Homo sapiens: one gene and its partners. The protein of the gene in region 3 interacts with the protein of the main gene of each other region in a biochemical or structural test. Each region holds a gene or a part of one and is shown on either strand. Other genes may lie near its edges. The genes, in order: SETDB1, KDM5C, H3C15, PADI4, MECP2, DNTTIP2 and EHMT2.

Region 1 (3,500 bases), 1.1 Mb from region 3:
AGTGACACTGTATGGAAAAAAATTTATGAGATGCAGCAAAGCAATGCTTACGGGGAAATAAATAGCTTTAGAGCTTATATTAGAAAGGAAGAAAGGTCTAAAATCAATCCTGTAAGCTTCCACTTTGAGAGGCTAGAAAAAGAAGAACAAATCAAACCCAGTAAGTAAAAGGAAGAAAATAAACATCACACTGGAAATATATTTAATGTGATATCCTGGATTAGATCATGGAACAGAAAAAGTCCAGAAGCTGAATAAAGCCTGAAGTTTATATAAAAGTAATATACCAGTGTTTGCTTCTTAGTTTTGACATATGTACTAGATGAGGGATATATAGGAACTCTATTACTTTTTCAATTTTTCTATAAATCTAAAATTATTCCAAAATAAAAGATTTTAAAAATCCACAAAGAAAAGTCCAAGCCTAAATGGCCTCAGCACTGAATTTATCAAACTTTTTAGGAAGAAATATCATTCCATACAAACTCAGAGGAGGGAACACTTCTCAACTCATTTACAAGGCCTATATTACCCTGCTACCAAAGCCAAACAAGGACACCACAACAGAACTATAAACCAATAGCCCTCATGAAACAGATGTAAAAATTTTTTTCTTTCTTTTTTTTTAAAAAAAAAAAAATTAGAGAAGGGGTTTCACCATGTTGCCCAGGCTAGTCTTGAACTCCTGGGCTCAAGCAATCTGCCCAACTCGGCCTCCCAAGGTGCTGGGATTTCAGGCATGAGTCACAGCATCCAGCCAAGATCTTTTTTTTTTAAATCAGCAAATCCAATCCAGCAACATATAAAAAGAATTATACATCAAGACCAAGGCTGGTTTACTCCAGGAATGCAAGGTTGGTTTAACATCTAAAAAAACAACTACTGTAATACATTCTTAATATGATAAAAGACAAAAGGAACATAGGAGAATGATACAGAAAAAGCTGACAAAATCCAAAATCCAATTAGGCTATGATAAAATCTCTCAAACTAGGATTAGAAGGGGATTCCTTTAATTTAATAAATGACATCTATAGAAAACCTACTGCTAACATAATTAATGGTTAAACACCAAATGCTTTCATATCAACATCAGGAAGAAGAAAAGGATGTCTGTTTTTTTTTTTTTTTTTTTTGGGTGAGACAGAGTCTCACTCTGTCGCCCAGGCTGGAGTGCAGTAGTGTGGTTTCTTTTTTTTTTTTTTTGGTTTATCTTTATTTTTTTTATTTTTTATTTTTTAATTTTTTTTTATTATACTTTAAGTTTTAGGGTACATGTGCACATTGTGCAGGTTAGTTACATATGTATACATGTAGTAGTGTGGTTTCTGTTCACTGCAAGCTCCACCTCCTGGGTTCACGCCATTCTCCTGCCTCAGCCTCCCAAGTAGCTGGGACTACAGGCGTCCGCCGCCACGCCCAGCTAATTTTTTGTATTTTTAGTAGAGATGGGGTTTCACCGTGTTAGCCAGGATGGTCTGGATCTCCTGACCTCATGATCCGCCCTCCTTGGCCTCCCAAAGTGCTGGGATTACAGGCGTGAGCCACCACGCCTGGCCAGGATGTCTGTTCTGGAAACCCTTTTTTTTTTTTTTTTTTTTGAAGACAAGAGTCTTGCTTTGTCACCCAGGCTGGAGTGCAGTGGCACAATCACAGCTCACTGCAGCCTCAACTTCCTATGCTTAAGAGATCCTTCCACCTCAGCCTCCCAAGTAGCTGGGATTACTGGGGTGCACCACCATGCCTGGCTAATTTTTTTATTTTTAGTAGAGATGAGGTCTTGCTACGTTGGCCAGGCTGGTCTCAAATTCCTGGGATCAGGGGATCCTCCCACCTCAACCTCCCAAAGTGCTGGGATTACAGGTATGAGCCACTGTATCTGGCCTGCTCTTAAAACTTATTCAACACTGTACTGAAGGTTTTAGTGAGTACAATAAGAAAAGAAAAAGAAAGATATCCAGGGTAGAAAGGAAGAAGTAAAACAGACTTTACTTGCATGAATTAGTTTTAGAAAAACCTAAGGAATTGGCTGGGTGCAGCAGCTCATGCCTGTAATCCCAGCACTTTGGGAGGCCAAGGCAAGTGGATCACAAGGTCAGGAGTTCAAGACCAGCCTGGCCAAGATGATGAAACCCTGTCTCTACTAAAAATACAAAAATTAGCTGGGTGTGGTGGTGGGGCAGGGGGTTTGCCTGTAATCCCAGCTAGTTGGGAGGTCGAAGCAGAGAATTGCTTGAACCCAGGAGGCAGAGGTTGCAGTGAGCTGAGATTGCGCCACTGCACTCCAGCCTGGGCAACAGAGCGAGACTCCATCTCAAAAAAAAAAAAAAAAAAAAAAAAAAAGAAAATCCTAAGGAATCAACAAAAAGCTTCTAGAACTATGTGAGTTTAATGCGGTTGCGGGCTACAAGATCAATACACAAAAACCAACTGTATTTTTTATATTCTAATAACAGAACATACACTCACTATAAGTCCTGGCAATTCCACTCTTTGATGGAATACCCCAAAATAGGGGTTACACAGAATGAGGAAAGCAAAGTAATACAATCAGGGTGTAGCACATAGGGAACATCTATGATACTAACAATGTTGCATTTTTTTCTTTAATAGCCAACTCAGGCAGTTAGAAATATGGAGTTAGTGACAATGGTTTCTCCTCTCTTCTATTATCTTCTATTTGCTCATCTTCCAGTGTTTCAACTTCAGTCCTGAGACTCTCCTATCCAAAGCTCATCCCTTACCTGAATCAATACTGAGGACATCATCATCTTCATCAGGAATCTCAATTATTTCTGTAGGCCGGGAAGATTCGTCCTCAGAGCTACTGTCCCGGTATTGTAGTCCCAGCTTGGAGTAGAAGTCCTTCACCAAAGACTCACAATTAGTCACTGCCCTAATATTGGAACACATGCAGAAAAGGTCAAAGCCAGTAGAGGAATTAAGAGATATAGAATCCATTACGATGTATATATATTTAAGTATAGACAGTCCTCAATTTAAATGGGCCACATTCCAAAGTGTCTCTGTTTAGAATTTAGAATGCTTTTTCTATAGAAAAATGTTTTAAATAGTGGTTTAGTTTCCAGACTAGTTCCTCAAAAATCCAAAGTAAGCCCAAAGTACAGTACTTTCACCCTTACCTCATTATTTACCTTGCTGTTATCTGAAAATGTATCCTGGCTGGCAGTGGTGGCTCACACCTGCAATCCCAGCAATTTGGGAGGCTGAGGCAGGTAGATCACTTGAGGTCAGGAATTTGACCTCCCCAGCCTGGCCGACATGGTAAAACTCCATCTCTACTAAAAATACAAAAATTAGCCGGGTGTGGTGGCACACGCTTGTCGTCCCAGCTACTCCGGAGGCTGAGACAGGAGAGCTGCTTGAACTCGGGAGGCGGAGGCTGCAGTGAGCCGAGATCACGTCACTGTACTCCAGCCTGGGTGAGACAGAGCAAGTCTCTGTCTAAAAAAAAAATAAAATAAAATAAAAATAAAATA
Region 2 (3,500 bases), on a different chromosome or scaffold from region 3:
TCTAGGCTCCCACAGTGCCCTTTATGGACCGCTATTGGCAATTTTTAATTTTTATGAACACATGTCTCTAGAGTACTGTATATACTTGGAAGGATACCATGTCTTGTCTTTGTGCTAGAGTCCAGCGTAGTTCTGAATACGGGTTTAGTAAGTGTTTATTGGATGAATAAAAATGGGAGGATTCAAGACTGGATGATAAAAGACTGCTCTTGCAGCTCTACCTGCTTATTTGGGGAGATGGTACATACGTGCAGTTGAGCTCCAGACCTAGCATGACTAGCCTATACAGGGCTGTAAATCATTCAGCCAGCAAACACAGTGGATTTCCAATGGAGAACTTTTGCTCTTCTCCCCTGGCAGATTGAGTCATATGTCTGCCGGATGTGTTCTCGAGGGGATGAGGATGACAAGCTCCTGCTGTGTGATGGCTGTGATGACAACTACCACATCTTCTGCCTGCTGCCTCCTCTGCCTGAGATCCCCAAGGGTGTCTGGCGGTGCCCAAAGTGTGTCATGGCGGTAAGGCCTCCCCACTCCACATCTGCCTCATAGGGCTTCCTTGCCTTCCTTCATCTGGCCTTATTGAGGGCAGCCTCTTAGCTCAGCCATAGTCTTAGGTTTTGGGTCTCTGTGGTGGGATTAGGCTGGGCAGAGCTTTGGGAGAAAGGAGCAGGAGATTCAGCCTTTGCTTCTGTCCTCTAAGAGCTCCCAGACCACCTGGAGAGGTAAGCATCATAATTAGACTATATGTGGTGACATATAAACAGAGGCTAAATTGTGTGTTAGAAACTCTGAGATATAGAAGTTCAGAGGAGAGGAAAATAGCTAAGGGTAATAATCAGGGAAAATGTCAGAAATGAGACTTGAAGGATAGGAATATTAAGAAAAAAATGTTCTTTCAATTTCTGAGTTTTTGTTTTGTTTTTTTTTTTCTTTTTTAGAAAGTTTGAGGCCGGGCGCGGTGGCTCACGCCTGTAATCCTAGCACTTTGGGAGGCTGAGGTGGGCGGATCGTTTGAGCCCAGAAGTTTGAGACCAGCCTGGGCAACATGGCGAAACCCCGTCTCTACCAAAAAAGATACAAAAATTAGCCAGGCATGGTGGCGCACGCCTGTTGTCCCAGCTGCTCGGGAGGCTGAGGTGGGAGGATCGCTTGAGCCCAGGAGGCGGAGGTTGCAGTGTGCCAAAATCATGCCACTGCACTCCAGCCTGGGCAACAAAATGAGACCCTGTCTTCAAAAAAAAAAAAGACATTTTGGAAAATAGGCAAATTACTTGTGTTCCCACCACCCAGTGATAACCATTGTTAATAGTTTGATATATTTTTTTCTCATCTTTTTGCTGTTACTTATATGTAACTATCTTTAACAAGTTTGAGATCTTGTTATATATTTTCATTTGTTGCTTTATAACCATTTCTCTATATTACTAAGTTTAATTAAGGTCTGGAATTTTTTTAGATGGTGTATCATGGGTATAATATTTATTTAGTTGTTTTCCTCTTGTTATATTTAGATTGAGGCAGTGCTACAGGCTTTAACTAGAGAGGTGGTTGGCTGTTCAGGACTGGGAGGTGGAGGACTAGCAGGAACAGAGGTATAGCAGGAGAGCATGCCTACTATGGGTATAGGGGCAGTAAGGAGAGCAGCTGAAGCAGCAGTAAGGGCCAAGCAGCCAGGAAGTTGGGCAGGTACATTTCATGAACTTCCTACCTTCACCCAAATTCTCGGTACTTACCTTCTACATTTCCCTCTGGATTTCTGTAGAGCAGACATTCGCCTTATCTTAGGGACTCAACTGTGGTTGTAGAGACCGGGTGTGCACATGCATACATACACACAGACAGACATACACAGATGAGGAAAAATCAGGGCAGTGCATATTGGCCTTGGTAGTGGTGGAGATTCTAGTTGGGGAGGAGTTTGGATACCAACAGTATCAAGACTGTCGACTCTACTTGACTCTCTTCTCTAAGTGGTTATAAGTCAGTGGACCAGACGGACATTTATTTTTCAAACATAAGCATGGTGTGTGTCTGATTTTGGGGTACATATTGTTCTCATCTAAAATAATGAACATAGGTACAAAATGAGGTAGACCCACATCCTATCTTCTGAGACAGTCTCAAGAACAGGATTAGTGGAGGGTTTGATACTGTAAAAGCCAGTGTCTTCATTTTCCATCTTTCTTTTTTCTTTTTCTTTTCTTGCGACAGAATCTTGCTCTGTCACCCAGGCTGGAGTGCAGTGATGCCATCTCTGCTCACTGCAACCTCTGCCTCCCGGGTTCAAGCGATTCTCCTGCCTCAGCCTCCTGAGTAGCTGGGATTACAGGCGCCTGCCACCACACCTGGCTAGTTTTTGTAGTTCTAGTAGAGACAGGGTTTCACCATGGTGGCCAGGCTGGTCTCGAACTCCTGACCTCAGGTGATCCACCCCACCTCAGCCTCCCAAAGTGCTGGGTTTACAGGCATGAGCCACCATGCCCGGCCCTGTTTTCCATCTTTCAAGGTACTGGAATATTCAATGCCATTTTCCCAGCCTTACAGTTCTAGTCTGGGCATAAAAAACCTTCTCTAAGCACCCTGCATAGAACCACATTTTAGAGGCCAGGCGTGGTGGCTCACGCCTGTAATCCCAGCACTTGGGAGGCCAAGGCGGGCGGATCACAGGGTCAGGAGTTTGAGACCAGCCTGGCCAACATGGTGAAACCCCATCTCTACTAAAAATACAAAAATTAGCTGGGCGTGGTGGCGGGCACCTGTAATCCCAGCTACTCGGGAAGCTGAGGCAGGAGAATCGCTTGAACCTGGGAGGCGGAGGTTGCAGTGAGTTGAGATTGTGACCCTGCACTCCAGTCTGGGTGACAGAGCAAGACTCCGTCTCAAAAAAAAAAAAAAAAAGAATCACATTTTAGCTAGAGAGGAAAAATGGTGGCAGAAGAACACAGGATAGCATATTAAAGTCAGAGCCATTTAGATAAAGTCCTAAAGGAAGAAAAGAGCATGAGATGACTCCCTGGAAGTTGTGAGACTGGAATTGAGTTTTGAGGAACCAATGAAAGAAAGTGGAAAAGGACATTTCAGTAGGGAGGAACTGAGCAAAAGCATGATGGGGAATGAAAAGACTAAGCCGAAGTGGTAAGAGCAAAAGGTACAGCTGTAAAGTAAGGCCTGCCTCAGGGGCCTTGAGTGCAGACCTAGGGCTCTTCTCCCTCCCTACCCCTTATATTCCAGTTCCACTTGGGAGGATTCTTCACCTCTTTGCCTCTGTTTTGGTGACATGTTCTCCTTTGGGTTTCAGGAGTGTAAGCGGCCCCCAGAAGCCTTTGGCTTTGAGCAGGCTACCCGGGAATACACTCTGCAGAGCTTTGGCGAGATGGCCGACTCCTTTAAAGCTGACTACTTCAACATGCCCGTGCATGTAGGTGATGGAGGGCTGAGGTAGTGTTGGGCTAGGATCATAGGTATTGATGCCAGATGGTCTCAGCTCACCTGGATCA
Region 3 (2,518 bases):
GGGACTGAACGGCAGCCCCAGCGCAGTTCTCCCCACGTTTGTCCGCAGAACCCCGGCGAGGCCGAGGTGGTCATTTCCCTCCCTAGCCGGATGGCCGCGCCGGGTGAGGCCGGTTTGGGCGCGAAGCACGGGCGTGTGGCGCTCCACTTCCGCAAAGGCCAGCCGCGCTCAGGACCGCGAGCCCTGAGCGTCCCCCTAGTGACCCCTGGCCTCGTGCCCGACGCCCCGTCTCTCCTGCCCCGGCCCCCCCGCCACGCAGGGCCCCGGTCACGCGCGGGGGGAGCCGGACCGCCAAAGCCCGCGAGCCGGCGCCCAGGAAAGCGTCCGCAGCCCGGCCAGTGCGGATAGGCCAATTGGCCGAAGTCGGCAAAGCTCAAGACGGCACCGCAGCAGGGGGACCCGACCCCGTTTTGTTGGGAGCCTAAGCGGAAGTGCCTTCCCCGCTCTAATGCCGGAGGAGCACGGAGGGCAAGCGGTACAGCTTCTTCCAAGTGCTGATGTGGGTGGCTCTGAAAAGAGCCTTTTGGATACGATGGAACCTCCGGCCGAACCGCCACTTCTTAAGCCCGCTCTCCACGGATGCGGCGGGCCAGCTGGATGTCCTTGGGCATAATGGTCACGCGCTTGGCGTGGATGGCGCACAGGTTCGTGTCTTCGAACAGCCCCACCAGGTAGGCCTCGCTGGCCTCCTGCAGCGCCATCACGGCCGAGCTCTGGAAGCGCAGGTCCGTCTTAAAGTCCTGCGCGATCTCGCGTACCAGCCGCTGGAAGGGCAGCTTGCGGATCAGCAGCTCCGTGGACTTCTGGTAGCGCCGGATCTCCCGCAGGGCTACGGTGCCGGGCCGGTAGCGGTGCGGCTTCTTCACCCCGCCCGTGGCCGGCGCGCTCTTGCGGGCCGCCTTGGTGGCCAGCTGCTTCCTCGGGGCCTTGCCGCCGGTCGACTTGCGAGCAGTCTGCTTAGTACGGGCCATAGCGAACCAAAACACAGGCTTACCAGCGCAGCGGCGGGGAGAAAAACGAGCTCCTAGCCCCGCCGCAGCCGTCTTTATAAGCACAGTCTTTTCCCGATTGGGCGGAACAATAATTGAAAATCCCGCGCTGGCTGTCCATTGGCTGTGACGTCACCCGTCCTAAAGTCACCGGTTGGCTTGGGCAGATTCCTCCCTAATCCCGCCCACCCCGCCTCACTTTCTACTTACCAGTTGGCGAAGTTTCGCAAGCTTGTTTTTCCCCTTTCCTTCAGGGTGAAAGTCATTTTCCATTGCAGCTTTGTCAGATTGTTCCCTTTCCGCCCTTCGCTTCCTTAGAACACACTGCCCGCAATACCCCCCCTTTCTTGCTGCGCCCTACAGCTCCCGCGTGGAACCTCATTCTTCCATTTGCCCCCCGCCCCCAGTTGCTACTTGGCGGATCGTTTTTCGCCTGTCGGGTGCCTTTTGGGTGGGAGAGGTGCCCGCCCCCAGGACGCAAGATTCCGCCTCCGAGGCCCTTACTCTCCGCCGCCAGGGCGCTTTGGAAAACAAAACAGAAACTAAGACTTAAGTCAGCTCAGTGAAGCCAAGACCCAGCTCCGCCACACTAGCGAGCACTACCCGCTCAGGGCCCTCCCCATCGGGGGTGGGGACGAGGAGCACGTCCCGCTGGTGCCAGACTAGGTCTAAGTGTCCGGCCATAGCCTGCGGAAACCACTAGGGAAGCGCGCGCTCCGCGCGCAACACTTCAGCGCGTTGGGTACTGCCCGCGGCGCTGGTGTTTGTGACTGTGTGGAGCGGACCGTGGCGGCGCCCAGGACGTTTGGTGCCTGCACCTGCCCTGGGAAGTCCTAGGACTGGGGACCCACTCATCGAAGAGCCAAGGCAGTTACGTGCTCCAGATGGAAGACGGCGCGCACACACACACACCCCGCCCCGCCCCGCCCCGTCCCGTCCCGTCCCGTCCCGTCCCGTCCCGTCAGCTCCAGGTTCGCTATTCACTACTGAGGAACGCTGGACTGAGAGTGGCCAGCATTAACAACTCTTTTATTTGAAAACGTGGGTGGCTCTGAAAAGAGCCTTTTGAGTTCACAGGTGCCCCTTCGAGACGCGGGCCGGGCTGGGCCCACTTGGGCCGGACGTCAGCCTCACTTGCCCTTTGCCTTGTGGTGACTCTCCGTCTTCTTAGGGAGCAGTACGGCCTGGATGTTAGGCAAGACGCCGCCCTGGGCGATGGTGACTTTGCCCAGCAGCTTGTTCAGTTCCTCGTCGTTGCGGATGGCCAGCTGGAGGTGACGAGGGATGATGCGCGTCTTCTTGTTGTCCCGAGCCGCGTTGCCCGCCAGCTCCAGGATCTCGGCGGTCAGATACTCGAGGACCGCAGCCATGTAGACGGGCGCGCCGGCCCCCACTCGCTCCGCGTAGTTGCCTTTGCGCAGCAAGCGATGCACTCGCCCTACCGGGAACTGAAGGCCAGCGCGGGACGAGCGCGACTTGGCCTTGGCGCGGGCCTTGCCTCCTTGCTTGCCACGACCAGACATGACAGC
Region 4 (2,154 bases), about 130 Mb from region 3:
TAACAGGATCCCTGGGTGTTCTCTGAATATCTTGGACCCTTTTGAGCCAATATCTGGTCTCAATTTTAATGATCTCAAGCCATCAAGTTTTATTTTCTACAGAGGAATCTGAGTCTTTATGTCGAAGCCATAAAAGGCAATATAAAAAAGAACACCGAGGAGATGAATTACTTCATTCCACAAAAATCCATCGCTATCAGTACGTAGGTGAATGCCCAGTTGTAGGTGAGTTTAAAGAGGGATATGCCCAGATTCTCAGCGGGGCTTACCCCTCCCCTGCTCCCTCCTCCTCCTCTTCTTGGAAAGGTCCCGTGGGAAACTCAGAACGAACTAGGATCATGCAAAATTTTATAGCCCAAATACATGTCTGGGAGCAAAAGACACACACAATAACGTGGCCTTCAGTGCAGCCTGTTAACACTTTTCAGTTTGTTTTGTGATAGTCAATTCAACCATGACAAATGAGTGAATGAATGAATGATACCAACAACATCTTGACCTCATGTACAAAGTGACTTAAAAAAACTTTATTGCAGCTTCTTAGAGCAGAACTGAGTGTGCAGTGCTAGGACCATGTTGGGATCTTCAGAGTGGGAAACTGGGACATCACAGGAGAAGAAAGCAAGCCACTGCTGGGAGGGCTGGCCGCCCCCAGGGAGCCACAATATTCACAAGAGCTCTTGCTTGCCACACTGCAGAGGACCCAGCGACATCTGGCCAGGAGGGAGAGGACGCCAGGGAAGATGGGCTCAGGGCACCATGTTCCACCACTTGAAGGAGAAGGGCTTTCTGCGCACGTTGGTGCCGCAGTGCACCTCCCCATGCCTGATGTGGTAGGTGAAGAAGTCGTTGATGAAGGTGCACTGGAGGCCCAGTGGCTCCAGCAGGGAACACACCTTCTCCTCCAGGCAGCAGCGGCCGTTGATGACGGGCCCGAAGGGCTTGGGGATGCCCAGGTGCTTCCCTAGCACCAGCATGTTCACCTGCAGGGAAGTGAGGGTTCAGGTCACAGGCAGCAGCGGGCAGCCTGCAGCGCAATCTGAGCGGCCCCACCCTTCTCTGACCTTTGGAAATAATAGCCCCTCCAGGGGTGGTGGCTCAGACCTGTAGTCCCAGCACTTTGGGAGGCTGAGGCAGGAGGATCGCTTGAGCCCAAGAGTTTGAGACCAGCCTGGGCAACATGGTGAGACCCCATCTCTAAAAAAAGTATTTTTAAAAATTAGCTTGGCATGGTGGTGCGTGCCTGTGGTCCCAGCTACTTTGGAGGCTGAGGGAGGAGGATCACTTGAGCCCAGGAGGTCAAGGCTGCAGTGAGCTGTGATTGTGCCACTGCACTCCAGCCTGGCAGCTTGGGCGACAGAGCGAGACTCTACCTCAAAAATAAAAATTGCTGGGTGTGGTGGCTCATGCCTGTAATCCCAGCACTTTGGGAGGCCTAGGCGAGTGGATCACCTGAGGTCAGGAGCTCGAGACCAGCTTGGCCAACATGGGGAAACCCCGTCTCTACTAAAAATACAAGAATGAGCCAGGTGTGCCTGTAATCCCAGCTACTTGGGAGGCTGAGGCAGGAGAATTGCTTGAACCCAGGAAGTGGAGGTTTCAGTGAGCCGAGATCATTCCAATACACTCCAGCCTGGGTGACAGAGCGAGACTCTGTCTCAAAAATTAAAACAAAATAAAAATAATAGCCCCACTTTACAAATGAGAAAACTGAGACCCAGACGTGGAAAATTGTTTGCCTAAGGCCACCCAGCTATACTTGGACTACAGCTATTAGACTCCAAGTTCCATACTCTTATTTATTTTAAATTTAAAAATTTAGATTTGGGGGTACATATGCATATTTATTACATGGGTATATTGATTACTGGTGGGCACTGGGCTTCTAGTGTATCCATTACCCAAACAATGAACATCGTACCCGATAGGTAATTTTCCAGCCCTCACCTCGCTCTCATTCTCTCCATTTTGGGGGTCCTCAGTGCCTATTATTTCCATCTCTGTGTCTATGTGTATCCACTGTTTAGCTTCTACCTATACGTGAGAACATGCAGTATTTGATTTTCTGTTTTAGTTCACTTAGGATAATGCCTCCAGCTCCATCAGGTTGCTGCAAAGGACATTATTTAATTTTTTTTTTTTTTTTTTTTTTTG
Region 5 (3,500 bases), on a different chromosome or scaffold from region 3:
GAGCCACCATGCCTGGCCCCTCTATTTTTATCAGGTGTTACAGAAAAGCTTCAAAATCATCATGGAAGAAAATTATCATTTTTACCAGTACAAAACTTTTATTGCATCCCAACCAAGCTAAGATGAATACAGAATTGTTTCAACAGAAGTTACCATTATCATAATTCAAGACAAAAATCAGCCGGCAATTACATGAGTTGGAAAACAAACTACTCTTATGTCACAGTCTACCCTAAAGCTCCAACTTATGTCAGAATTTAAAATACACACACATATACACAACCCTGTGGATTCCTCCTCATTTATGTAAAACCTACTTTTGTGATGATCTGCTATTTTCTTGAGTCTTCTGGAATGAACACTGTAGCCCCACTCCCGGATAAGGAGAAGATACCACTTCCAGGGCTTAGCACTGCCCCTGGCTTGAAGCAGATACTCAAATATTTGTTGGGTGAATGAATGATTGTCTGCTGATAGGGCTGCCCATCAAGCCTCATAAAGAAAAAATTCAGAAAAAAGCAACTTTATAGAGAAAATAGGAAAAAGTTTAAGAGATATTTTGCTCACTTGAAGAAATCAGCATTTGTTAAAGGTGAAGACTGGATTGACTGGTTCATCAAGTGGCTTAGACACAACTGACTAAGTGGGCTATACCTTATCCCACCCCAAAGTTAAATACAAAACAGGTATTTTTTTTTTTAATCACAGGAAAAACACAGGGCAACTTAACTATAAAATTATTATTTTTATTTTTTATTTTTGAGACAGAGCCTCACTCTATCGCCCAGGCAGGAGTGCAGTGGCGTGATCTTGGCTCACCGAAACTTCTGCCTCCTGGGTTCAAGCGATTCTCCTGCCTCAGTCACCCCAGTAGTTGAGATTACAGGTGCCCGCCACCACGCCTGGCTAATTTTTGTATTTTTAGTAGAGACGGGATTTCACCATCTTGGCCAGGCTGGTCTTGAACTCTTGACCTCAGGTGATCCACCCGCCTCAGCCTCCCAAAGTGCTGGGATTACAGGCATGAGCCACCGCATCTGGCCCTTTTGTATGTATTAAATACGTATGTATGAATATAATACATCATCAGGTTTTTTAGGAAGAAAATATAGATGACTATTGATCTGTTGTTAAGAGTAGGAAAGGATTTCCTGGCGGGGCGCGGTGGCTCACGCCTGTAATCCCAGCACTTTGGGAGGCAGAGACGGGCGGATCACAAGGTCAGGAGATCGAGACCAGCCTGGCTAACATGGTGAAACCCTGTCTCACAAATACAAAAAAATTAGCCAGGCGTGGTGGCGGGCGCCTGTAGTCCCAGCTACTCGGGAGGCTGAGGCAGGAGAATGGAATGAACCCGGGAGATGGAGCTTGCAGTGAGCCAAGATCACGCCATTGCACTCCAACCTGGGCGACAGAGCGAGACTCCGTCTCAAAAAAAAAAAAAAAAAAAAAAAAAAGAGTAAAAAAGGATTTCCTAAGTATGAAAGCAAAAGAATAAATCATAACATAAATTTTATATATCAGAAAGACAAGAATCAAGACGTAAGACAAAACAGGAAAATATCTGCATGACAAAGAGTTAACATCTTTAATACATTAAGAGCTATGACAATGATTATTGAGGTTTAGCCTCAGTAATAATCCAAGCGGCACCAATTTAAAAGATGTATATCCAATTCTGGGACGATATGGGAAAATGGCACTTTCTCAGACTGTTGTGGGAACTGGGATAGCCATTTTGGACAGTGATGTGGTGGTATCCACCAGAAATTCCAAGTCTAGGCAGCCATTCTTCAAAATGACTGGCACATGAGGAATTTCAATCCTGTAGCATTTTTAATAACATAGAGAGACAACGAAATGCATGACGGTAAGTCAGCCCTGGACTACACTGCTATTTAAAAGAAATGAGGCAGAGATGAATATATGAGATGGAAAAATGCAGAATATGTATATATAACACCATCCTGAGGCCAGGCACGGTGGCTCACGCCTGTAATCCCAGCACTTTGGGAGGCCAAGGCAGGTGGATCGCCTGAGGTCAGGAGTTCGACACCAGCCTGGCCAACATGGTGAAACCCATCTCTACTAAAAATACAAAAATTAGCTGGGTGTGGTGGCAGGCGCCTGTAATCCCAGCTACTCAGGAGGCTGAGGCAGGAGAATCACTTGAACCCAGGAGGTGGAGGTTGCAGTGAGCCAAGATTGTGCCACTGTACTCCAGCCTGGATGACAGAGCAAGACTCCATCTCAAAAAAAGAAAAAACAAAACAAAACAAAAACCCTCCTGTTAATTACAACACAAAAAGTACACAGTTTAGTCTTAGAAGACTTAGAAGGATCTACATTAAGCTATTAACAGCAGTTATTCTGGGTAGTGGGAGCAGAGATTAAGCGGGGAGCTTTCATTTTTTTACCTGATACTTTTTTTTTTTTTTTTTTTTGAGACCGAGTCTCACTCTGTCACCCAGGCAGGAGTTCAGTGGTGTGATCTTGGCTCACTGCAACCTCCGCCTCCCAGGTTCAAGTGATTCTCCTGCCTCAGCCTTCCGAGTAGCTGGGACTACACGCTCAAGCCACCATGGCCAGCTAATTTTTGTATTTTTAATAGAGATGGGGTTTCGCCGTGTTAGCCAGGCTGGTCTCGAACTCCTGACTTCAGGTGATCCACCCGCCTAGGCCTCCCAAAGCGCTGTGATTACAGGCATGAGCCACCTTGCCCAGCCACCTGATCAATTTTTAAGTGGTTTGATTTTTCTATAAATCCATGTATTATTTTAGTAATTCTTTAAAAAGTAAAAGAAGAAAAATAGATATCAAGCATTTATCTACTAAAGACGGGTACTGTCCTTTGAGAATTCCCTCAAAAGTTCTTTGAAGCTCAAATGGCTACATCTTTCCCATTCATAAGATACTTTTTAAATTTCCTCTTTCTACATTTCTTTTTAAAAGTTTATTTTCAATTAGCTTCCTCAGGTTGAACTCTCTGTACATTTCTTAGGAGAAACTGTATGGTGTCAACACTGCCTGTTTTATAACATCCATTCGTAATCTGTAATCTGAGAAAAAGACTCGTAAAAACCCAAACCACCCTCCAGGCCTAACATCTTCCAGAAGAAACCCATTCACTGCCCATATTACATTTAGTCCACACAATTTCTGAGACAAAGCACAAAGCACTAGCCATACAACTCCCACCAGCATAAATACGTGGAGTACAAAGAATGTCCTGTCAGCTGGGCCCAGAGCACACCCCACAGCAGTAAAAGAGAATGACAATTTGAGTCACAGGATCAGGAGCAGAATCAAATTTGGGACTTGAGGCAGTGTGATGCTCTTCTGGTCTTCCGCTTCCTTCCACACCTTCTATTCTCCTTCAGCCAAACCTTGCCCTCACATAATCCCTAAGCAGGCTATTTCTTATGGATGTCTACAACAGCTTCACACTGAGGTGTCAGAAACCACTAGAGAGACAACAAAGAACGACTTAGGGTCTCAGT
Region 6 (3,500 bases), about 56 Mb from region 3:
AACTCCTACAAGTTATTTAATTTTGTTTCATTCATACAACAAGTATTTAGTTAGTGCCTACCATGTGCCAGGGTGCTCCATATTACAGTAACATTACTAGAATACCATCCTCAACTTTCCTTCAAGCTCTCTGGATAACTAGTCGAAATGGCAGATAGAAGTAATCTATATATATATATATTTTTTTAAAAAACCTCTACTTATAGATGCACTATTGTGGCTGCAAAGATGTGAAAATCTATACATAATGTGTTTATGGTACTATATTTTACAGCCCTTAGAAATCTGTAATTATTTTCTTTGGACTCATATATAGACCAACAGATACAGTTTAATTGTGCAGTTATGTTGTATAAGCTGAAAATATATAGCCAAACATATCTAAGCATTTTAATTAAGTCACTGTACTTACTCTGCGTTTTTTCTGAAGTTGATACTTTGATTCACTATATGGTGGAACACAGTGGTTTTTTTCAAAATCAGGTGTAATGACGGCTTTCTGCAGAAGCTATAAAAACATAAAATTGGTTTTAAAATAATGTCAGAATGTTATATAAGTTTTTCAACAGTTTAAACTTCTGTAAGTTTTAAAATTTTTAGTCAGCCTGGCAAAGTGGCTCACACCTATAATCCTAGTGCTTTGAGGAGGCCAAGGGAGGAGGATCACTTGAGGCCAGGAGTTTTAGACCACCTTGGTCAACATAGCAAGACCCTGACTGTAAAAAAAAAAAAAAAAAGAAAAGAAATTAGTTGGGCATGGTGGCACACACCTGTAGTCCCAGCTACTCAGGACGCTAAGGCAGAAGGATCACTTGAGGCCAGGAGCTTGAGGCTGCAGCAAGCTATGACTGTGCCACTCACTCCAGCCTGGGTGACAGAGTGAGACCCTGTCTCCCCCCAAACCCAGCTCCCTCCCAAAAAAAAAAAGAAAAAAGAAAAAAAAGGCCAGGCACGATGGCTCATGCCTATAATCCCAACTCTTTAGGAGGCCAAGGCAGGACAATCACTTGAGGCCAGGAGTTCAAGACTAGCCTGGGTAACATAAGAAAACGCCATTTCTCCAAAATAAATAAATAAATTTGTGCAGTCAAATCTGTTTATCTTTTCCTAAATGATTTCTGTACTTTTGTTACTTGACTAGGATGATTATATTCTCCTAAAACTCTGTGTGACTAAAGGAACCTCAGGTTAATTAGTATTTTTCTCAGTACAAGAACCAAGTAAGACTGCTCTGTAGCCCTCAAAATAGTTTACAGGAATATAGTACAAGCATTAATTTGGGACTGACATTTGAAATGATCAACTCAGAAATTAACAGTCAGGCACACAATTCAGGTTCAGGCCTAGATGTTTCTGTGTGGTATAGGTAGCCGTCTAGGCTTTCCTATCACTCATAAAAGGGGGCATGATATTTACTTAACAAATGATTAAGAGTTTGCTGTGAGTCAAGTACTGTAGTACATTCAAGGACAGTGGTTCTCAACTGGGAGCATCTGGCAATGTCTGGAGACATTTTTGGTGGTGGTGAGGATAAGGAAGAATGCTACTGACATCTAGTGGGCAAAAGATAGGGATGCTGTTAAACATCCTACTATGCACGGAACATCTCACAACAAAATTATGCAGCCCAAAACATCAGTAGTGCTGAGACTGAAAAACCCTGTTTTAGGAATATAAAGAAAAGATGGTAAGTTAATATATCACATGATCAACAATGAATCAGATCTATGCTAGATGTTATGGAAACAGAGGGGTTGTGAGAAGGACTGGAGGTAAAATATTCCCCAAGGGCAACGATCAATTATTTTGCACTTGCTTGGGGAAAAGCAGGGTAAGTTCAGGCAACTACAGTAGTCTTCAGTGGCAAGAATAGAGCAGATGACAGCTGGGTGGGGTAGAGAGGTACTTTGAAGGATTCAAGAGAATACTGTCACATCTGTGTGTGTGGTGTGTTTTTTGGGGCAGGGAGGAGAGATGTGGTCTAGCTATGTTGCCCAGGTTGGTCTCAAACTCCTGGGCTTAAACAATTCTCCTGCCTCAGCCTCCCAAAGTGCTGGGATTATAGATGTGAGCTACCTTGCCCAGCCGGATTTGTGTTTTTAGACAGAGAAATCTAGAAGTGTGGAGGATGGCTTGAAGAACAAGATGAAAACAAGATCAATAAGGAAGCCACTGGAGTAGTCCAGATGAGAAGCAAAGGCCTGCACTAGCTGGTGACAGTCGCTTGAAAAGGAGGAAGCAGAGAAATATCTTCCCCTAGAGGCTTGGTGACTGACTACAAAAGGAAAAGAGAGTTTGGTTTCATTAGCCAGAAAAAAGAATACAAGAAGAGGATTCCTGGTTCAGGCAGGGAAAGGGGAATTAGTGACGTCAAGTACCTGAGGACATCTAAATGAACAAATAGGTACTTGGATTTAAAGGTCTGAAAGTGACAGTGAGAAGCATCAAGGCTAGAAAATATAGATTTAGGAGAAAACAGTGCAAGGTGTTGGCTAAAGCTAAGGGTTTGGGTAAAGTTACCTTAACAGTAATTCCTTCTGAAATTATATGTAAAATGTCTATATGCACATGTGCATTTTTTTCCGGGTGGAAGAGGCAGGCAGGCATTCACAGCTTTCAGATTCTCAACAGTCTACACTAGTTAAGAACTTAAGAACTAAAAGTATAGCAAGAAAAGGGAAAAAAACAAAACCCCTGGGATCATAATTGGTGGGTGTAAGATGAGGAACACTGACCCTGTATTGATTTATTTTTAAAGCATTATCATTCATAGATAGGATTTTATTGTAAAAAGAAATGACTGTTTTAGAGAGAAGGAAAAAACTAACACATTAGGCCAATGTGGTTTCACTGTAGGAAAATTAAGTCTTTTACCAAGGACTAATTTCTAAAAGTGATTGGTTAGTTCTGTGAAAACCTAACAGCACAATTAACTTACCTCATTTTTCTTTTTCTCCTTGATCTGTGTTAGGGTTCTCTTGTTAGACTGTAGTTTATCTGCATTAAAATTAATATACAAACCACCCAACTGCTTGATACTCAGACCAGGGTCTATGCTGCTGCTTGTCAACTTCAGACTGAAAAAGAAATCATCACTTAAAGATCAAGTAATTAAATCAAAATGGAAACATATAAGATGGCATTTTAAAAAATCACTTATTCTTCTCTTCCCTTGTATTGTCCACAATAAAGAAAAAAAAGCATCTTATTTTTATGAGGAATTCCTGAAAAAAAACTCTAAATAAATATATTTTTCATCATTTTATTTTATTTTTTGAGACAGGGTCTCACTGTTGGCCCAGGATGGAGTGCAGTAGTGACCACTGCAGCCTTGAACTCTTGGGACTCAAGTGATCCTCCTACCTCAACCTCCCTGGGTGGCTGGGACTACAGGTGCACACCCAACACCTGGCTCCATAATGTCAAATGAATGAGCCATTCCATGAAGAACCCAAGGCAGTGATTTTCTCATTCCCCAGGCTAACATTTCATATTTTTAT
Region 7 (3,500 bases), on a different chromosome or scaffold from region 3:
TCGGGAACTGAAGAAGGCGATGCGTGGAAATCGCAGGTCTTGGTGCAGCATGAAGACCCGGACGGGAATGATGTTGGGGTCACACAGGTGGTTGATGAAGCGGCTGATGTTGCCATAGTAACGGGCATCTATGCAGTACACCTCTCCATCCTGGGGCAGGGGGATGGCACTCTTCACATCTCCCCCGACCCTGCTTGCCCTCCCCACCCACTGACTCCCCAGTCCCTCCTCCCCAGGTTTCCATTTGCTGACTTCCCAGAGGCTCCTGAAAGCCAGCCCTGGGGAGCAGCAGGGTAAGGAGGGTCTCCTGCTCACCTTGTTGTCTAAGTCGAAGAGGTAAGAATCATCCTCTCTCACATCAGCCTCAGCATCAGAGATCAGCTCCCCGACATACCTGTGGGACAGGAATCCATGGTTCTGAAGGTGAGTGTGGGCTATTAGGAGGTGGCTCCAGGCCCCATCTCTCTTCACAAGCCTGTGGAATCTGGAATGGGCAGGGCTGGCAGGTGTGGGGAAGGGAAGGCCTGGAGCAGCAGTGGTGGGCAAGTGAAAGGGCAGCATTCCAGCCTTGACAGAGGAAGCCTTCAGTCAGCACAGAGACAGACAACAAGCTCTGTGGTTAAGGGGATTAATGTGTAGGGGCAGTTGGCCTGGGTGGGGAAGTTCGGGTTTGGACACAGAGAGGTTTGTGTTCCAGGAGCCACCCGGCAGGAATGGGCGATATGGAACAGGAGAGGGGCCAGGACTGCAGGAAGAGCCAGAGGTACAGGAGTGGCAAGGAACTCAAGGCATGATTCGGGGCAAGAGCACCCACACATATCTGGACACCAGAGGGAGGAGAGGAGCCAGCTATCTAAGGAGGGTGAGCAGACATGGGAGATTCAGACACACGGAGAGGACGTGGGTGGGAAGTGACTGTCAAGAGACAGCTTCAGCAGAGTGGGAAGGGCAAAGGCCGATTTTGGCAGGGACAGGCAGTGAGTGGATGGTGGGGAAACTGAGGCCCAGCAGGAAGGGGCTGCTTGCCAGAGAAGTTGAGAGATGACATGATGGAAAGAAACTGGATGGTCTGTTGAACAGGCAAGTATGGTTAGAGGACTATCTTTTTTAAAGGCCAAAGAATGGTCAGGCACGGTGGCTCACGCCTGTAATCCCAGCACTTTGGGAGGCCGAGGTGGGCGGATCATCTGAGGTCAGGAGTTGGAGACCAGCCTGGCTAACATGGTGAAACTCCGTTTCTACTAAAAATACAAAAAATTAGCCGGGTGTGGTGGTGCGCACCTGTAATCCCAGCTACTTGGGAGGCTGAGGCAGGAGAATCGCTTGAACCTGGGAGGTGGAGACTGCAGTGAGCCAAGATTGTGCCATTGCACTCCAGCTTGGGCAACAAGAGTGAAACTCCGTCTCAAAAAATAAATTAAAAAAAAAAAAAAAAAAGAGCCAAAGGAGACTAAAGTAAGATTGAGGGTTGTGGGATGGCAGCCAAGAGAAAGGGGGAGATTACAGATGCTGGGCAGAGAAAGAACTGATGGAGAGGGACAGGCCCCTGAGGAGGTGGACAGATAGGTAGCTGTTATCACCTCCACTCTACAGACAAGAAAAATAAGGCTCAAAGAGGTTAAGTAACTTGGCCAAGAACATCCAGAAGCAGAGAGGGGCTCAAACCCAAGTCTGTTTGTCTCCCAAACTGGCACTTTCTCCAGCTAGGAAGGGCGAGGAGGGGGTGGAGGGGAAGGTAGAGGGTGGAGGTGGAGGGGAGGGAAGACAAGCTCTGTGGTCTGGGCAGAGTGGAGGCAGGTGCCATTCTCAGCTGGGGGGATGGGGGTCAGAGGCGGCTGGCTGCTCAGCTGCAGGAATAGGGGTCAGAGGAGGCTGGCTGGAGAGTGGCCAGATGGAGACATGTGACTCATCAGGGCAGATGGCTGAGAGGGAGGCCTGGCAGTCAGCAGTGGCCATGTATCCCCTTCCCACCAGGTGTTAAGGTGCTCCCGGTGACTTACTCGCAGATGAAGGTCCCCTGTGGGATGGTCTGCAGGGCGCGGACCCCCCAGCCCATCTTGGCTGTTCGGTAGAGCTGTAGCCGCACCCTGGGGGTAGGAGAGATGGCGCTGTTGGGTGGAGGCCCTGGAAAAGCCCCAGGGGCAGGGAGGAAAGGGTGAGGTGGGGAGAGGGTGGGCTGTGGAGCAGGGCCTCACTTGATGCCACTCTGTACGACCCGGTTCTTGCAGTTTCTCCAGCATGAGCACGCCTGGTTACACTCGAAAATCAGCGGAGGCTCAATCTTGTTAAATTCCTGGAGCAATCGCCCATCCTAGGGTGCGGAGGGGAGGATAGTGGTTTCTCTGTGGGGCCCACCTCAGCTGCCCACCCAGGAACCCCAAGACTCTACAGAGACAGGGAAGTTGGGGTTGGGGAGGTCACACAGGCTCTGAGATCCGAGAGCACGAAATGCAGGAGCATCATCCCTGGTTTGCATAGACCTGGGCACACGCCCATCGCTGTCCCAGCCACATCCCAGGATTCCCAGGCCTTGCCCAGTCCTCTCAGTCACTTCCCCCACAGGGTAGGAGGTGAGGGACATGGTCCCAGGGAGCTGGTTTATTGGAGGCTGGCTCCTCTGAAGGAGGGGCCGGGTGTCTGTGGCCAAGGCAAGGGGCACGCACCTTGTCATACCAGCACCGGATGCTGAGCTGGCCGCACAGGCAGTTGGAGCTAGAGCAGTCGTCCACACACGTGCAGTGCTGGGGCGAGGAGGCAGAGGTCAGCTCAACCCCATGATCGGTCTGGGCCCCTCTACTCTTGATGCCCCCTGACCCCCTAACCACTGTCCTTTCTTTGGGGTCCATGTGTTACAACAGTGGGTGGTGATGGTCCTAGGGTGACGGGTAATCAGTATGGTGGTGTCCCCAGGGCTACTGGGAGCTCATATGATACCTTGCTGTGACCTAGGAAAAGGATCCCTCCCCTGGTGGGGATGCGACCCCACACCAGGGCTCCCTTTCAGCCAACCCTTCCTTGGCCAGGTGCCTTTGCTGGTTTGAAGCTTGTCCAACTGTACTTGGCAGCTCTCGGTGTCCTTTTGGGGAGGCCCCGGGCCCCCTACTCACCTGCAGGTGGGTGATGTTGCGATCGATGTTCATGGTGGACGTCTCGCAGTTCTCTGAGATGTACTTGTAATCCTCAGGGCAGGGCTCCCCATCCACACCGTTGACACAGGGAATGGGCACGTTCTCATAGCCCCGAGCCACGTCCCTGCAGAAGACGGGAAGAAGGGGCTGGGAAGCTGGAAAAGGGGGTGAGGAGCTACTCCAGGTATAAGGAAGAGAGTTGGGGAGGTTCCTGGGGCTGGGGGCAGGGGAGTAAGGTTGCCAGGTAAGATGCAGGACAGCGAGTTAACATAGAATTTTAGATAAACAAGAAATAGCTTTTTAGTATGTCCCAAAAATTACACAGGACATTCTCACACTAAAAAAGTATGCATCTGTGCATCTGAAATTCCA

The links.
Region 1: the proteins of H3C15 (region 3) and SETDB1 form a complex in vitro, tested with the Homo sapiens proteins (one study listed by BioGRID).
Region 2: the proteins of H3C15 (region 3) and KDM5C form a complex in vitro, tested with the Homo sapiens proteins (3 studies listed by BioGRID, with this or other methods).
Region 4: of the proteins of H3C15 (region 3) and PADI4, one has a biochemical effect on the other in vitro, tested with the Homo sapiens proteins (one study listed by BioGRID).
Region 5: the proteins of H3C15 (region 3) and MECP2 form a complex in vitro, tested with the Homo sapiens proteins (one study listed by BioGRID).
Region 6: the proteins of H3C15 (region 3) and DNTTIP2 form a complex in vitro, tested with the Homo sapiens proteins (one study listed by BioGRID).
Region 7: of the proteins of H3C15 (region 3) and EHMT2, one has a biochemical effect on the other in vitro, tested with the Homo sapiens proteins (one study listed by BioGRID).

What each region holds. Positions count from the first base shown.
Region 1 is NC_000001.11:150,929,363-150,932,862, reverse strand, and holds part of SETDB1 (histone-lysine N-methyltransferase SETDB1), read right to left. Parts: intron 2,897-3,500; coding exon 2,745-2,896; intron 1-2,744. UniProt on the Homo sapiens protein: Histone methyltransferase that specifically trimethylates 'Lys-9' of histone H3. H3 'Lys-9' trimethylation represents a specific tag for epigenetic transcriptional repression by recruiting HP1 (CBX1, CBX3 and/or CBX5) proteins to methylated histones.
Region 2 is NC_000023.11:53,211,708-53,215,207, reverse strand, and holds part of KDM5C (lysine-specific demethylase 5C), read left to right. Parts: intron 1-360; coding exon 361-519; intron 520-3,301; coding exon 3,302-3,421; intron 3,422-3,500. UniProt on the Homo sapiens protein: Histone demethylase that specifically demethylates 'Lys-4' of histone H3, thereby playing a central role in histone code. Does not demethylate histone H3 'Lys-9', H3 'Lys-27', H3 'Lys-36', H3 'Lys-79' or H4 'Lys-20'.
Region 3 is NC_000001.11:149,851,108-149,853,625, reverse strand, and holds H3C15 (histone H3.2), read right to left. Parts: upstream 1,019-2,518; 5' UTR 972-1,018; coding exon 561-971; 3' UTR 501-560; downstream 1-500. Other genes in the region: H2AC19 (histone H2A type 2-A), read right to left, coding at 2,120-2,512. UniProt on the Homo sapiens protein: Core component of nucleosome. Nucleosomes wrap and compact DNA into chromatin, limiting DNA accessibility to the cellular machineries which require DNA as a template.
Region 4 is NC_000001.11:17,362,351-17,364,504, reverse strand, and holds the end of PADI4 (protein-arginine deiminase type-4), read right to left. Parts: intron 984-2,154; coding exon 750-983; 3' UTR 501-749; downstream 1-500. UniProt on the Homo sapiens protein: Catalyzes the citrullination/deimination of arginine residues of proteins such as histones, thereby playing a key role in histone code and regulation of stem cell maintenance.
Region 5 is NC_000023.11:154,087,718-154,091,217, forward strand, and holds part of MECP2 (methyl-CpG-binding protein 2), read right to left. Parts: intron 1-3,500. UniProt on the Homo sapiens protein: Chromosomal protein that binds to methylated DNA. It can bind specifically to a single methyl-CpG pair. It is not influenced by sequences flanking the methyl-CpGs.
Region 6 is NC_000001.11:93,872,707-93,876,206, forward strand, and holds part of DNTTIP2 (deoxynucleotidyltransferase terminal-interacting protein 2), read right to left. Parts: intron 3,078-3,500; coding exon 2,939-3,077; intron 509-2,938; coding exon 413-508; intron 1-412. UniProt on the Homo sapiens protein: Regulates the transcriptional activity of DNTT and ESR1. May function as a chromatin remodeling protein. Part of the small subunit (SSU) processome, first precursor of the small eukaryotic ribosomal subunit.
Region 7 is NC_000006.12:31,880,699-31,884,198, forward strand, and holds part of EHMT2 (histone-lysine N-methyltransferase EHMT2), read right to left. Parts: exon of another isoform or gene 3,253-3,500; coding exon 3,108-3,252; exon of another isoform or gene 2,742-3,107; coding exon 2,664-2,741; exon of another isoform or gene 2,312-2,663; coding exon 2,196-2,311; exon of another isoform or gene 2,088-2,195; coding exon 2,001-2,087; exon of another isoform or gene 1,975-2,000; intron 863-1,974; exon of another isoform or gene 698-862; intron 424-697; exon of another isoform or gene 395-423; coding exon 316-394; intron 151-315; coding exon 1-150. UniProt on the Homo sapiens protein: Histone methyltransferase that specifically mono- and dimethylates 'Lys-9' of histone H3 (H3K9me1 and H3K9me2, respectively) in euchromatin.